2 separate regions of the Homo sapiens genome follow, and region 1 is linked to region 2. The links come from fine-mapping of genetic effects on gene expression. Tissue or cell type: testis. Region 2 holds a variant in brackets; the other region holds the start of a gene. All regions are shown on one strand. Distances are between the middles of the regions.

Region 1 (8,110 bases), 780 kb before region 2:
AAATCTGACAATAAAAAACACAACACATTTCTGGCTGTCATCTGCAGAAAAATAGTCTTGAAACCTCAACATTTCTTGGTTCCTGCTTCTCTAGAGCCATCAACACTAATTTTTCTTTTTTCTTTCTTGCTTTTTTAGATACAGGATCTTGCTCTATTGCCCAGGTTGGAGTGCAGTAGTGGGATCACAGCTCACTGCAGCCTGGAATTCCTTGGTTCAAGCCATTCTCCTGCCTCAGCCTGCCAAGCAGCTAGGACTACAGGCACACACCACCACACCTGGTTAGTTTTTAAAATTTTGGTAGAGATGAAGTCTCGCTGTGTTGCCCAGCCTGAGACTAATTTTTCAATATCAATTTCTACTGACTAATCAGGGTGTAAAAGATGTGGATGTTACAAAGTGAAGAAAATTTTGGTTATGTTGGATACATCAGCTAGAACTCATGGCATTGGCTGTAATAGCATTACCATATGTCCCAGCAATTCCACTCCTAGGTACATATCCAAAGGAATTGAAAGCAGGGACTTGAACGGAGATATTTACACACGAATGTTCATAGAAGCATTATTCACAATAGCCAAAAGGTGGAAATGTGGAAACAACTCAAATGTCCCTTAGCCAGGATTACAAATGGATAAACAAAATGTGGTATATAAATACAATAGAATATTATTGAGCCTTAAAAAGGAGTAAAATTCTGATCCATGCTACAACATGGATGAACATTGAAAACATTATGCTAAGTGAATAATCCAGAAATAGAAGAACAAATATTGTATGATCCCACTTATATGAAGTACTTAGGATAGGTAAACTCATAGAAATAGAAAGTAGAATAGAGGTTACCAGGAATTAGGGAAAGGGGAAAAGAAGGAGTTCCTGTTTAATGGGCAGAAATTTCTTTTTTTTTTTCTTATACTTTAAGTTTTGGGGTACATGTGCACAACGTGCAGGTTTGTTACATAGATATACATGTGCCATGTCGGTTTGCTGCACCCATCAACTCGTCATTTACATTAAGTATTTCTCCCAATGCTATCCTTCCCCCAGCCCCTCACCCCCCAACGGGCCCCAGTGTGTGAAGTTCCCCTCCCTGAATGGGCACAAATTTCTTGTTGGGGATAATGAAAAAGTTTTGGGTATGGATAAGAGTGATGGTTATACAACACTATGAGTGTATTTAATGTCCCTGAATTATACACTTATATATGGTTAAAATTATAAATATTACGCATGTTTTACCACAATGAAAGAAAGAAAGCGCGCCTTCTAGTGGGAGCTGGGTGCAGAGAGAGCTCTGTATTCTTGGCTGCAGCTGTCTAGAATGGAGCCTGTCTTGCTAAGCTGGAACTTGGGAGTCTTGGATAAAATACCACAGAGCCTTGCCTTTCTTACCAAATTTTTGTATCTCTTTCTTGAAAAGATGTTTCTTCTTTTGCTGTTTGCCCTTAGGATCATTTCCAGAGGGTCTGAGTCATTTTTCTAGAATTTTCACCAGTTTCACTGAGAAGTGAGGTAGCAAAGCTCTTTATGCAGTCATGCCAGAAGTTGACCGGGAAGACTATATTTCAAATGTTAGTTATGTTATTCAATTTGGAGGATTGCTTATGACATTGTTGCACTGGTTGTAAAATTAAATCTTTAGGATTAAAATGTTTTCTTGAGAAATGTGGCAACATTACTAAAAACCATGGTAATCCCTCCCCCCAAAATGGGATTTTTAGTAACTTTATCACTGTCCTGAGGCTTCCTTTTAAAAACTGCAGCTTTGACATTTTTATTACATTATTTTAAGAGAAAGTAAGGCTCTATAGATTCCACATGCATTCTTGAATAAATGAGTGAGTGAATGAATGAATGTTTTTGTTTATGAACATGGTGGCCATTTGCTACTGTGTGCTTTGACAGTAAGACTCCCCTGTACCTGCCTGTTGCTGAATTCTACAATTCTATCACTCAAACCCTATCTTAGTTCAAGCTGCTATAACAAATTACCATAGGCTGGGTGGCTTAAACAACAAACATTTGTCACAATTTTGGTGCCTGAGAAGTCCAAGATCACAGTGCAGGCAGATCCGGTATTTGGCGAGGGCCTCCTTCCTGGCTTGCAGATACCGTCCTCCTGTATCCTCACATGGTAGGAAAAGAGCGAGCTAACTCTCTGGCCTCTTAAAAGGGCACAATCCTACTCATGAAGGCTCTACCCTTTTGAGTTAATTACCTCACAAAAGTCCCACGTTCAAATATCATCACATCGGGGGTTAGAATTCAATGTATGAATTTCAACACATTGAGGGGTTCACTATAACAAATGCACTGTTTCGTTATTTTCCTCTATGCAGTCTATGGAAAGTAACTTTCCTCTCCAGTATTTTTGAGAGGAATGATAATTCAACCTTTCTATTAAGAATAGTTTATGCAGTCAAAATGTTATTTTCTCCAAGAGACAAAGACTTGTTATTTTATCAGTATCCAAATAACTGGCTCACCCAATTACTGGAATAATTTTACATTTCAGAGAAGGTGAAAGAAATTAATATTCATGAGCATTTACTGTGTGGTAGGACTACTGCAAATATTATTTTATTTAACCCTTGCAGCAGTATCTAGGAGTTAGAGCTTATGAGTATCACTGAGGATGCAGAATTAAGACTTAAAGGTTGGGTCTTTTCCAAGGTCATATAGCTAATGAACAGTAGAACTGCAAGAAAAAAGAGAACAGGAATAGGGCAGTCAGACAGCAGTAGGTTGGCCCTAGATGTCACAGGTGGGGGTTTCCAAAGGAAAGATAAATGTCTCTGTAAGAAAAGCATCATTGATTCGTTGCTATTTTATCATCTACAAAACATTCCCTGCCAAATCTTCAGAGGACAATTCTAAAGAAACTTAAAAGGATAATTTATAGTTTGTTCATGTTTACAGCCTAAGAACACATTATTGCCCTGTTTTTATAAATTCATGTTGGCTAAACACATTTAAATATCATTGTGTTTTAGAATATTTATTTCTGAAATTTAACTTTATTTCTGAATCAAGTTCCCCAGTAATACCGACCTCATGAGTGCCACTGTGATATTTTATAAATAATATAGGTAAAACACTTTTTAGGTACGAAGAGACCGGAAGTCCCAGAGCTGAGGCCTGGCTAACTTTGATGAGAAAGGCAGGTTGGGGTATGTTTGTGGAGTGGTGGTTGTGGGGGTAGAGAAGCAGGTTAGCTTAGGGAAAGGGTACCATTTAGTAGACCCTTAGAACCCAGGATTAGGAGCTGTATTTAAAGAGAATAGACACAGTAAACTGCAAGAGATATATTCAAAACCAGTTATAAACTTTCGGAGAAAAAAAGGTAGGAAGGGAGAGGTTGGGGGCTTGGGCGATCCATTGCTTGGAGCTCGGCTTAGCCAGGCTTGGCGGTCCTCAGAGGGGCTGATAAATCGGCGCTCGACTGGCCTAGGAGCTGTCCGCAGGGAGGTGAGGAGAGGGGCCCGGACGCCCGCGGGGAAGGTGGGGACGGGGGCCCGACGCCCGCGGGGAAGTGGGGACCCAGCCGAGCCGTCCGGGCAGCGGTCGATCTCTAGAGCCGTCTGCCGGGCAGGCAGCGGACGGGCGCGGCGAGTTGTTGGTCACCAGGCGTCTCCAGGCCGCCGGCCCGCGCCAGCGCCTCAGCCGCATTTCCAGTCAGAAAGCGGTGAGGCCTGCGGCGCGCTCGGGCGCAGGGCGGGCCCAGCTCCCCGCGAGGTGGGACCGGCTGGGCGTCCGGCCCGCCCCTAAAGTCGGCTGATTGGTGTTCGGTTCCTGTGTCTTGTGTTCCGGTGTGTGGCGCCCCCTGAGCGAGCGCTGGGGGGGACGTACCCATCTGTCTGAGCCGCGGGTTTCACAGCGGTGGGAGGAAACGGGACCCGGGGGGTGGAGTGACGCGCCCCAGCGCCCCGTTCTTGTGCCACTCTCGGGGCCCTAAGGCCTCTGCCTTGGATTTAGGATATTCTCCTTAGGAAATCCACAGAGCTGTTATTTTGCTTTAGGTGCTGATTCGGTCCCCAGCCGGACCCTTCCAGCCAGCCCTGTTGGTGCCTGGGGAGAGGGGGTGAGATCTGGGGCTCCGACAATTGTATGGTCCTTTCCCAGGCCGAGCCTCGGAGTAATTTGTTCCCGTTGATTTTTCCTTCTTTGTCAGATTCTCTGCAGTTATTTGTGACGGTCGGTTATTCCCGTAAATGTTGGTCCCTACTTCTTCCTTAACTCACAAAAATTTCTAGCAAATCAATAATTTTTATCTGAGTTTCTGTACTTTTAAAATAAGGAGTATGTTTCTGAGTAAAAATTGTAAGAAGTAATAGGCCTGCAATTTTATACAATAAGTTTATACAATAATTGTATACAATAATTTTATACAATAAGTAAAGATTACAGAAGACAAAATGGTGAATTGTCATTAATATAACTAAAGATTAATTGTATCTAGTTGTATTAATATTTAACTAGAGATTGTCATTAATATAACTAGAGAAGGTCGGCACCGCAAATTATGTAGACTCAAAAATAGCTTAAGTATTTTAACAGTGATTATAGCAGAGCAGACACTTAAAACTACCTGGGATGATATTGTTTATTGTGTTTGGCAATCTAATTTTGTGCCACGTGCTGAAACTAAAACTTTAATAATAAATAATAGGAACTTAAAAAATCTGAATCTAAACCTAGAACTTTAATTAATTTAAAATAGCATCCCCTCACATCACAAACTCATACTGAACTGTAGCAAGGTCCCTTTTAGGACCTGTGTTTCTTTTTTAAAAAAAGATTTACATAATGAAAGTGCCAAATTCATCATCTTTTAGAACCTTCATGATTTTATTTACATAAATCCTGAACTAGAAAAAAATTTCACATTTTTTAACTGAACGTTGAAGATTGGGGCTCAAATTTTAAGTTTCTAAATTAACAGAAAATTATTTTTATTTGACACTATTTTTATAAACTGGTTCTTGCTAATGCATTTATTCCACAATGCATTCTTATGGACCATTTACTGTGTGCCAGGCACTATTCTGGGTTATTGGAACACATTAATGAGCAAAAAGTCCCTGCTTGCTCTAAAGGGAGAAACATAATAAACAACTAAGCATATACTATAATGTTAGTTATCAGTTCATGCTATGAAGAAAAATAATGCGGAATGAGAGGATGCAGTTTTAGATAAGGGGTGTTTTTTCACAGGAGTATATAAGAACTAAAATATGTACATGATATTTTTATTCTGAACCCAAACAAGTTATATTCTTGTATGCTAGAACTAGAAATCAAAAATTCTTTTGAAAATATTTGCTGTTTGTATAGGAGGTTTTTGTCAGTTTATGCAACGCTTTTCTTCCCAAATGTTTTAAATTTGTAGTTTTGTTGTCTATTTGTAGTTGCTTTAGGAAGAAAGTATTCAAGTGTATAAATGTTAGCCTTAAGATTTTTGACTTAAATTCTGAGGTAGCAAAGCCATATGAAACTGGTCTGGTGAGGTTTATTTTAGGAAAAGTTTCTTTTGTTTGAACATAGTTTTCCTAAAACTAGAAAGGGAACATTTTATTTGTTACTTTTTGGGCAATATAAAAACATGATTAACATTTTCATTTATACTTTTTCAGATAATTGTTTTCAAGTTCTGAAATTGTTTACTTAAAGCTGTTAAAGACTTCGCATATTTCTGAATGACTCCCTCTACCTCCTGCCCTATTATCCTAGGCTTCTATTTTTCGTATAGTCAAATTGTTTTAGACATTTATAGAACCACACTAGTTTGTTTCATTTTTACTACTTGTTTTTGTTGGTAACTGATTAATAGATAGAGAAAAATGAAGAGGGCAATTATATTAAACAGATGGAAGGGGGAAGAACCCAATAACGAAAACAGTGAAAAACCCCACAATATTCTATATCAGTAAGAACAGCCCTGAAGTATATATACAGGTTTAGTTCTCATACAGTAGCATTTGTCAAGTGTTGTATGTGGAAACATTCTCCCTTCCCCATATCACTCCCACTTGTATCTCATCCCCACATCAAGGAGGATTCAAAATTGGAGAGACATAATCTGACTTGGTAATGCGTATTTCTCCACTAGATGGCATTAATAGAATTTCTTTGATTGTAGTTTCTATCTTGAGGACAAATTTACAATGTATTAACTAAAACAGAAGAAACAGAAATGTGATTTATGTTTTACAGTTTGTTCGTCTGATTTTATGGTTTGTCATATAGAATGTTCTATGATGTTTAAGAATTTAGAAAAAAATAGGATATGCAGGGAAAAATAATTCTAATGGGAGCAATGTATGTATCTAGAGACTAGTTTTTTTTTTTAATCACATTTGCATCTTTGTTCAGCCCCAGATTTTTGTTATGTTCAAAGGTGGCCAATGCTGAATGTTTTTATCCTTTATGTTTAGATAATATCTCTGAGTGCAAAAATTATCTTTTAAAAAAGAATGTAAACGTGTGTAGTATATGCATTAACTCATATAAATAAATATGCATATGTATGTTAAACTTGTAATTTTTTTATTTTGAAAAAGTTCAAACCTATGAAAAAATATTATAATGAACCCCATGTACCTATTACATAGCTTTAGCTTTGATCAACTCATTGTCAATATTATTTCAATACTCCTTCATCTCTCCCCTTTATTTTGAAGCAAATCCCTGCATATGTACATAGTATATTGTTAGAGGTGCACACATTCACAATAAAATGTGCTGTCCTAACTTGAAAATAATGGTGTGAACAAAGTATTAAGAGCCCAAGAAGACTGATTAATTCTGCCTTGAGGAAGAAGACAAATTCAGAAAAGCCTTTGAAGAAGAAATGACATTTGACCTATAACTTGAAGGATGGTTAGGAATTTGCCAGTTGGAGAATGGCAGAAAACACATTCCAAGCATTGGAGCACTATGAAGAGAAGGGAGCAAGTGTGAATCCATGAATGAATGGAAAACAGAGAATAATGTATGTGAATATTGAGGTGCTTTGAAGGAAGTTGCAGACGATGAAGCTGGAAGGATAGTCTGTGGTTATATTTTACAGGAGACTGTGGAAAATTAGTGATTATACAGAAATATTTTTTTACATCTTTATAAATAAAATATAAACTACTTTTTCCATATTTTGTAGATTTATGACAAAGTCCAGTTTTCAACAATGCTGAAATCAAATGATTGCCTGTTTTCTTTGGAAAATTTGTTTTTTGAAAAACCAGATGAAGTTGAAAAGTAAGTCTCCCTTAAAGATTGATAGCATAGTATATTACTTTAGGGTTTTTTGAATTTGGGTGAGTTTTAGCTTTCTCTCTGGTAAATATACAAATAAAAATGAGGAATCAACAGAACGATATTTCAGTTACATATTTGGTAAACATGGAATTCTCTTACCAGTAGTATAGGGGAGTAACTGAAGTTTAACATCTTAAATGTTATAATTTTAAAAATAGAATAGATTTGGGCCAGGCGCAGTGGCTCACGCCTGTAATCCCAGCACTTTGGAAGGCTGAGGCGGGTGAATCACCTGAAATCAGGAGTTCAAGACCAGCCTAGCCAACATGGTGAAACCCTGTCTCTACTAAAAGCACAAAAAAATTAGCCAGGCCTGGTGGCGCATGCCTCTAATCCCAGCTACTTGGGAGGCTGAGGCATGAGAATTGCTTGAAGCCCGGAGGCGGAGGTTGCAGTGAGCTAAGGTGGCGCCACTGCACTCCAGCCAGAGCAACAGAGTGAAACTCTATCAAAAGAAAAAAAAAAAAAAAAGATTCTTGCCTATTTGGCTTGCATTTATTTGTATTTCTGGTTTGTTCAGATTATTTTTGGCCAAGCTAAAGATGGGAAATAATGCTCAAAGAGTAGCTCAGGACAAGGAATGACGTCACCATCTGGAAACAGAATGGACAGTATGCCAAAGGCAAAGTATGATAGGCACATTAAATGCTGGCAGGAAGTAGGGGCGGGAATAAAGATGTGAGACCAAAGAAAACAAGACTAGAGAGTAGGTAGTATGTTAAATACTGGCTTTTATGGATTTTCATGTGCATTGTTCAATTTTGAATTTTCTGTGTATTTTTAGTGTATTGTA
Region 2 (8,110 bases):
TTGAATAGAAATGATGAGATTGGGCATCCTTGTCTTGTTGTGGATCTTGAGAAAAAGCTTTCATGAACTGTGCAGAATCGGATTCTCTTCAATTAGATATCTGTCTGTCTCTGTCTTTTTGTTCTGTCTCTCTATCTCTGTCTATCCATCTCTCCCCTTCCTCTAATATCAATCTTTAAAAATTATGCCATGCTCAGTCTCAAAATTCTACTGACTGAATTTAAAAGTTGTTGTCAGTGTCAATTTAATTCAATTTCTATTGGCTTAGAGGTTTTTTCAGAAGCAGGCATAAATTTCAGAAACTTCTTTTCTTCATTAAGATGTGTAAGACAAACGTATTGGCTATAGATTTTTTTCAGATAGTATAAGAAAATTCAAAAAGTGTACATTAGATAAATCCAAATGTTTATTCCTATTCATAAAGCCCCTTGAAAACTTTTTAGAGCATGCCTACTTCTATGATTGAAGGAAGATTCCTAATGGAACTAGTAAACTGTCATTTGCAAAAGTCTAATCTTTCATATTATTTTTTACTTTATTCTGTGTTTTGGACCTATTAACCAATAACCTAGAATAACCTCATTCATTCAAGCTCAATTTATAAAAAGCTGTTCATTAATGTTTTCCATAGACACATACATACATTTATATTTTTAAATTAAACTTTTAATGTTGAGATAATTGTAGGTTCACATGCAGTTTTAAGAAATAATACGAAGAGTCCAGGCACGGTGGCTCACACCTGTAATCTCAGCACTTCGGGAGGCTGAGGCGGGTGGATCATTTGAAGTCAGGAGTTCAAGATCAGCCTGGCTGACATGGTGAAACCCCATCTCTACTAAAAATACAAAAATTAGCCTGGCGTGGTGGCACTCATCTGTAGTTTCAGCTACTTGGGAGGCTGAGGCGGAAGAATCGCTTGAACCCGGGAGGTGGAGGTTTGGCGACTGCAGTGAGCCAAGATCACAGCACTGCACTCTAGCCTGGGCAACAGAGGGAGACTCTACCTCAAAAAAAAAAAAAAAGAAAAAAAAAGAAATAATACAAAGAGATCCCATATACTCTTTACCTACTTTCTCCTAATGGTAACCATTTGTGAAACTACAGTACAATGTCACAACTAGAACATCGACAATGATAGTCAATACCCACATTTCTGTCACACAAGTTTCCCTTATGTTGCCATTTTATAGCCACCTCAACTTCCTTCCCTCCCCCACACTCTTTTAACTCTGTAACCACTAATCTGTGCTCTATTCCTATAGCTGCAATTTCAAGAATGTTGTGTAAATGCAGTCATATGGTATGTATATACATTAAATGTTTTTTCCTGTTTTTAAAAACAGGCTTCTTCAGGAATTAGACATAAACTCATAGATAACATTTTTAAGTCAACATGGTGACACATTGGTCTGATTTTTTAAACTATCAGCTCACCCCACAAAAATTCAATATTTTCATTTATAAAGACTGATTTAAACTTACTGAATTAGATTGGATTCCCTGAAACTGATTCTGAACTGGAGACTTGTATAAAGAAATTATCTTGGGGTTTGGTCTGAGTAGTCACCCTGTAAGGAAGTGAGGAGGGCAGGATTGGGCAGGACGAACTGCCCCACAGAGCAGTTGCAGCTGAGGCCTCAGCACATCCAATTAGGTATTTGGGGACCAGGAAATGATCACTAGGTGGGTTGAAGTACCCAGTGGATTGAGTGGACTCAACCTGAGCCAGAACCATGCCACAACCTCATTTATTACCTTGCCCCCTATGTTCCCCCTCTAAAACAAGCCATGGTGGTGCTTTGATTCCCCAGATATCAATGACATTTTAGACCCTGCGTTAATAATCCTGGAAAGGTCTGAGTAGTCCGCTTTCTCCAAAACATGGTTACCCAAGTAAATGGGCCATCAATTCCTTTAGGAAAGGACTGGGAGAATTGCTACTGAATACGTTTGATGCAATGTTGTAGCGTTCATCCTCATAGGGACCTGGTGTTTCCTTTAGTCAATAGGTTCTGAATTTGAGAACTGGCTTGGGTCTGGACAATAAATTGTGACTTTACCAGAGTAGTTGCCTTTAGCTTTCTGATCATCTAAACATTCATCCTTGATTTTTTTTTTTAAAAAAGAGCATAAATTAAGCAATATCCTTATTGTCTGCCCACTTCTTTTGCCTCTATGAACACTGTGTTCCAGGAACCATCTCCATGTTTCTCTGAGGGTTGAGGAGCCCTAGTTGCCATTCCAATCTTGCAATTCATCAAAATAATTGTGCTCACCTTGGTTTTGATGGTTAAGTGTCATCACTTGGCCTCTTTTATCAGGATTCTGGAATAATCCCTGCTCTGGCAATACCTCTTGCTATCAGCCCTGGCCTGTATACCACTGAGCTTCTCAATGATGCAGGTGTTTCTTTATCTACTACATTTCATATCAATAACTTTGGTAAATGGAGTATACTCTGGGCCTTTTCATAAACAGTTGTCTGGGAGGTTTTCTGGCTTCACATAGCATATCCACTCTAACATACCCCTTTCTCTGATATTTTATTTATTATTTTATTATTTATTTATTTATTTATTTGAGTCTGGCTCTGTCGCCCAGGCTGGAGTGCAGTGGCGGGATCTCGGCTCACTGCAAGCTCCACCTCCCGGGTTCACGCCATTCTCCTGCCTCAGCCTCCCGAGTAGCTGGGACTACAGGCGCCCGCCACATCGCCTGGCTAATGTTTTGTATGTTTTGTAGAGATGGGTTTTCACCGTGTTAGCCAGGATGGTCTCGATCTCCTGACCTCGTGATCCACCCGCCTTGGCCTCCCAAAGTGCTGGGATTACAGGCGTGAGCCACTGTGCCCGGCCTACTCTGATATTTTAAATTCTTTTCCCCCTCAATAATATAGCAATTCTGTAATTTCTACTTAGTGTGAGCCATTGATTTTCCAAACTTCTAGGGAACAGTCTAGCAGTGTGTTACCATTGTTTGCTGGTGTTAAATCCCCCAGTAGCTGAAGGATGAGTAAATCAACCCTGAAGAGGGGATTTGGGTGGAACACAACAGTATCTACTCACTGCCTTACTCCAAATCACACTATACCTGCCGTCATCTCCTGTACTGGCTTTGCAGTGGCTTTTGTCAAAAGTGATACAAGCTTATCTGATGGCATGATCTCCAAATAAGTAACTCAAGCAACATAATAAACAGAATTTAGAAGACTACAAGCTAGGAATACAAAGATAAACAAAGTATATATACAGGAGAAAGATTTAAATGATGTGACAGAATTTGGGGGAAGGGCAACGACCATCAGCAGAGTAATGAGTGAACAGGTAAGGGGGATGC[C/T]TCTAGCCAAAGAGAAAAGTTAGCTCCCGTATTTAAATAACCATAATAAAAAAAACCCCAACAATGCAGAAACCATATTCTTATAAGCATAGTGTGCTGAAGACTGTCCATTATTATCTCGTCTTTTTGATTCAATAGAGAGATTATAGTCACCACTGCTAAAACTATCTCTTATTATATAATACAATGATAATAGCAACGATTTATTGAATGTTTGTGGTGCTAAGTGCTTTATAAAACACTACCTCCTTATATACCCTTGTATGCATGTGAAGGAGTGATGACAAGAAAATGTGACCCTGGTCAAAGTTGCCACCTTCGTGGTTCCGTACTTAATACAATGATGTTGACTACTGTAATTTAAACAATGTCGTCGCTCTTATTTGTGGATTGCTGTTGGAGACCGTGGAACATAACTGTGAAGTCCTAAAATATGGTACACCTTCATTCTTCACAAGAGGATTTCGTATTTTGAAAACAGTCAAAGTCATCCAGGGCCCAATTTGATGAATAATTTGGAAAGATATTCAAAATAGGTAATGTAATTTTAGTTCTTTAAAATAAAAGAGAGTTGGGTTTTTGACTATTAAGCAGTAGTAGTCCTAATTTTGTTGGAAGTTTGGAAATCAACTCTAAAGCAGTTCTCAAAATACAGCTGAAGCAATGACAGCATTGTTAGAATGACAGTGACCTCTTAAGATAAGTACGTAAAGATTGACACTTATTTGGATTACAAACCATTAATTAAATTTTTTCTGCTTCGTACACAGACAGAAAAGTGGAGAGGAAATATTATGTTGTTTTTTTAAATGGGAAGGTATGTTTCCTTAAAGAGCAACTTTACTCATTTCCTACTCTTAAGTCAAATTTGCTTTGCTCAGTCTATTTTGTCACATAAGGTTCTGATAGGCTTATTTCCATATACTTTATCTTTGGAATCTTGAATTATGTTACCATTCCTTAGCAAATGGAAGCTATATTCTGAGTTTCCATAATATATTTCTTCATTTTAAGTGCATGTAATATTATCCAGATACTGGTAACAAATAGAAAAACAAATTTCATATTAAATTATTTTAAATTTACAACTTAATTGTTAAATTACACATTGAAAAAATTTATACATTGAGCATGACGTTTTGGTGATTTTAAAATTTCCTATAAATTTGTCTTTTCACCTTTATTTTTATGTATTTTGTCACTTTTAGTAGTAGGTGAGTAAGTTTAATTCTAACATTTGATGATAAGGTCTCTGTAAAAGACCTTGGTGAAAAGGATACAGGAAATTTAAAATATACCTACATACTAACAAAGAAAAATTTAGAGCATTTTATGAACAGGTGAAAAAATGACAATTAGGAAAATAAATCATATCCATATTCTTTAAGAACAAATTCTCTCTTGAATGGTCTATCACAGGTAGACTGCTGTGCATGTAAGATGCTGTATGTTAAGTTGCACTGAGAACTTACAACAATTTTCACAGGTGTGAAGGTGCATAGGCAGGTAACTTCAAACCTGATTGTGTCAAATGTCATGCTTAATTAAAACGTGTTCCTTGCAAATTCAGATCTAAATTTAGACATAAGAATTTATCCTCCCTCCCCTGTCATTCTTGGAAAATCATACATTACAGTTTTGGGGCTTGACGAAACAACTCAGCAGAAAAATTCATTCACCTCTTATTGAAAAAATATGTTTTTTCTCCCGCTCAATTTCCCTTCTTAACATTTGCTGGATTGCACTGTTGAAACATATCCTATAGCCACAGTCCCTGATGGCTAAGAAATTGACATGTTATTATTCTAGAAACTGGTTATTGCTTTTAAACATAGATGCAATTAGTTGCATAAAACACTAGAGTAAATTTGTGTAGAAATAGTTGATTATTATTTTGTCTATGGTCACATTAGCATGGTTTATTAAGCATTTTGATTATAGTACTTTAGTAGTAATAAATTTGCTTATCATTTAACAAGCTGAAAAATATATTTTAAGTATATATATTTGTCTTAAAAGAAATGTCAAAAAGGAGTAGTGATAATTGATTTTCTTTACTGGGCTATTGAAATTTTAATCACTAGATGCTGAAAAACAACCAGCTTTCATGGTAAATATCAACATTAAGAATTTCTGCACATTTTCTGGTTAAATCTAAATTTAAATGTTGAGAGAGACAATTGTAAAAAGGAATTAAACGTTCTGAGAAGAATAAAAATAAATGAAAATACAAAAATGCACTTTAAATGGGGCTATTCTTTTCCAAGGAGAAAAAAAGCGGGGGGTGGTGGTATTCTTTTTCAAGCAAGCAATCTCTTGTAAAATTCACTTTGCAGCTTCTACCCGAATCATATAGCAAGATTTCCTCATTCGCCAGACTGTGGAAATAAATCAAGGACCTTTGTCCGTGCTACTAAATAATGTCCGTGATATCACACACTCAGCAAAGATGCCTTCTTTTTCAGCTGCTTTGCTGTCTAACTTGCTCTGTATACTAATGTGGTTCTGAGATGATTGTGTGAGATGTTGATATTTGGGAATGCTGCTGATCAGCTTTCTGTTTTCAGAAATCGCACCAAAGACTTGAGGTTTTAGCGGAATTGATAAGAGGAAAGCCACATAAGAGCCCTTGCTTTGATGCACGTAATAATAGCCAGCAAAACCCACCCTGTGCAGCCTTGAGAGCAGCCCCACTACTCTGAGGAGTACTCAGTTCTTCGGGGCTGATTATGGCTTATTGAGGCAGAAAACTTCTTCGAGTTCAAACTCTTTGAATTCCTTGTTCACTCAATAGTGTGTCAAAAAAGAGCATTCAATGTTTCATGTCACAAAATCACCGCCGGCCTAAATTGTTCCTATTTCTCTTTTGCATATGGTGCGCAAGAAAATTTTCAACACTCTTCCGTCGGAGCACCGTAATGCTTTGATATGGGTAACATTGCCATAACAGCCTGCATTAAGGAACTTATATTTTATTCTTCTTTTCAGTGTACATAAAAATCCCAGCTTAGTCCTTTTTTGTCTTTTAGATCCTTTGAACTCTTTCAAGCTATGTTTCAAGACTTTCTGGGCTTTGACGGGGCTGGGCATTCACTGTAAAAGCAGTCAATGCCTCAGTGAGACCACAAGCAAAACTGTAAGTGTCTTAAGCAGAGACCACACAACTCTTGTGAGTATTTGCATAATTTAGCAACTCTGTTGAGTGTGAATCTCAAAGCAAAGAATGCTGCTCATTAATTTCCTTCATTAAGTATCTTGGGCCATATCCCTTTCTGACCAGAGCATTACCTGTATTGGATGCTCTGGAGCTGGTATGCATATGAATACACACTGGAATATAGGTGTATGTATGTGAGGATGTGCTGTGTATCAGAGTCCTAGCTCGACATTATCATTAGAGAATATGTTTACACTGCGGTGCGAAATTCTAGAATAAAGTGCTGATTCAGACGCAAAAGTGTATACCCTGAAGTAGCCAACTGTGGGCTCAAAGAGAGCAAGGCCAAAGCTGGACTGCTCAGTTCATTTTCCAGTTCAGTAGCTGTAGTAATCCAGCTTCGCCAGCTGCTAACAAGATTGGGTCTGAAGTTTACCTCCACAATGAGATAATCAGATTACCAGCCACAAAGATCAAATAATGACCCAGCTTTCGAGCAAGTTCAGCAGGCCCTTGATAACACTGTGTGGTCCTTGAGGCTTGATTAAAAAATTAAATGGCTAAACTTTGCCTCAATATTTTGCATTGGGATTTTGAGTGACTTGATGATTCTTTTCAAGGTGCACTTTCCTATTCTTCTGTTGGTTTGAAATTAAGAGGTAGGAGAAAAGGAGGATGCTCCCGCTGTGCAGTTGTTCTTGAGCTGGGCTTTAAATGAAGCATGTAGAATTTTTAATTTGGTGGTGTAGGGAAGACAAGGTAAATTCAAAATCATCCGCGAGCAAGGAGTTGGGCTGTAACAAAAACAACCTTTGCGTCTGCTGAATGTTGTTTCCCAGCACTGTGCCTCTGGACCAGAATGGATTTGGTCTTTCTCTCCCAGGCCAAAAATGTTTGAAAGTTTTGGTTTTGGCTACTATATGATAGCTGTTTTCAGTAGTAAAGGGATTATTCTGAGAGGCATACAAATGTGATTGTCTCACAGCAGATGGTGCGCACTGCTTCACCTTTGAGAAAAGTTAATTAAGCCAAGCATATTGTGCCCATAGAGAGGAAAATGTAGATGAATATTGAGCAATCAAACTCAGTGTCTCCTTTTTTCATGCCTTTGCAATGGGACACAGAATCCCATTGAAAAAGAATTATGTACAGAATCAAATTAATTCACATCCAACTTTACTCTCTTCCCACGTTTTAACAGGGGTGCACACCAGGCTCTTCAGAAGTTTTGTCCACAATCAATGAGCCACACTGCGGTGTCCACTAAATTAAATGAACCAGTGCAGAAGAATCTCTTGTGAGATATTAAAAGGGTGAAAGGCTGTTTAATTCAAATCCTTCCGTAGAGTCTTTTCACAGCCCCTTTTCCATAGTACAGTGTAAATTATTAACTAACTCCTTTCATCTTAGATCAATTTACAAAACAGAAACAATTACCCCTTGTTAATGAGAGTGAACACTTCTAATAATTATGAAAGTTGTGTTTGATTCTGTTTCCTCACAGGTCCTTGTTTACAATCTAATTTAGAGTTGTGTGCAGAGTGAAATAAAACAAGAATTGAGGTTGAGAATTTGAAAAATGGCTGGTCATGAAACAAATGGGCTTTGCATGTT

What was found. PIP is the estimated chance that this variant, and not a neighbour inherited with it, causes the effect.
Region 1: HFM1 starts here. The variant in region 2 is fine-mapped to the expression of HFM1 in testis (GTEx, PIP 0.98).

Annotation. Positions count from the first base shown.
Region 1 is chr1:91,400,159-91,408,268 of GRCh38, reverse strand. It overlaps HFM1 (helicase for meiosis 1), which reads left to right and starts at 3,432. Exons shown (of 39, transcript NM_001017975.6): 1 at 3,432-3,471; 2 at 7,160-7,257. The coding sequence starts at 7,187. RefSeq lists a silencer at 3,458-3,837.
Region 2 is chr1:90,621,695-90,629,804 of GRCh38, reverse strand. No RefSeq gene overlaps it. Among named protein-coding and RNA genes, the nearest start is that of SNORD3G, 32 kb to the left of the region's middle. The variant C/T (reference allele first, on the strand shown) is at 3,340.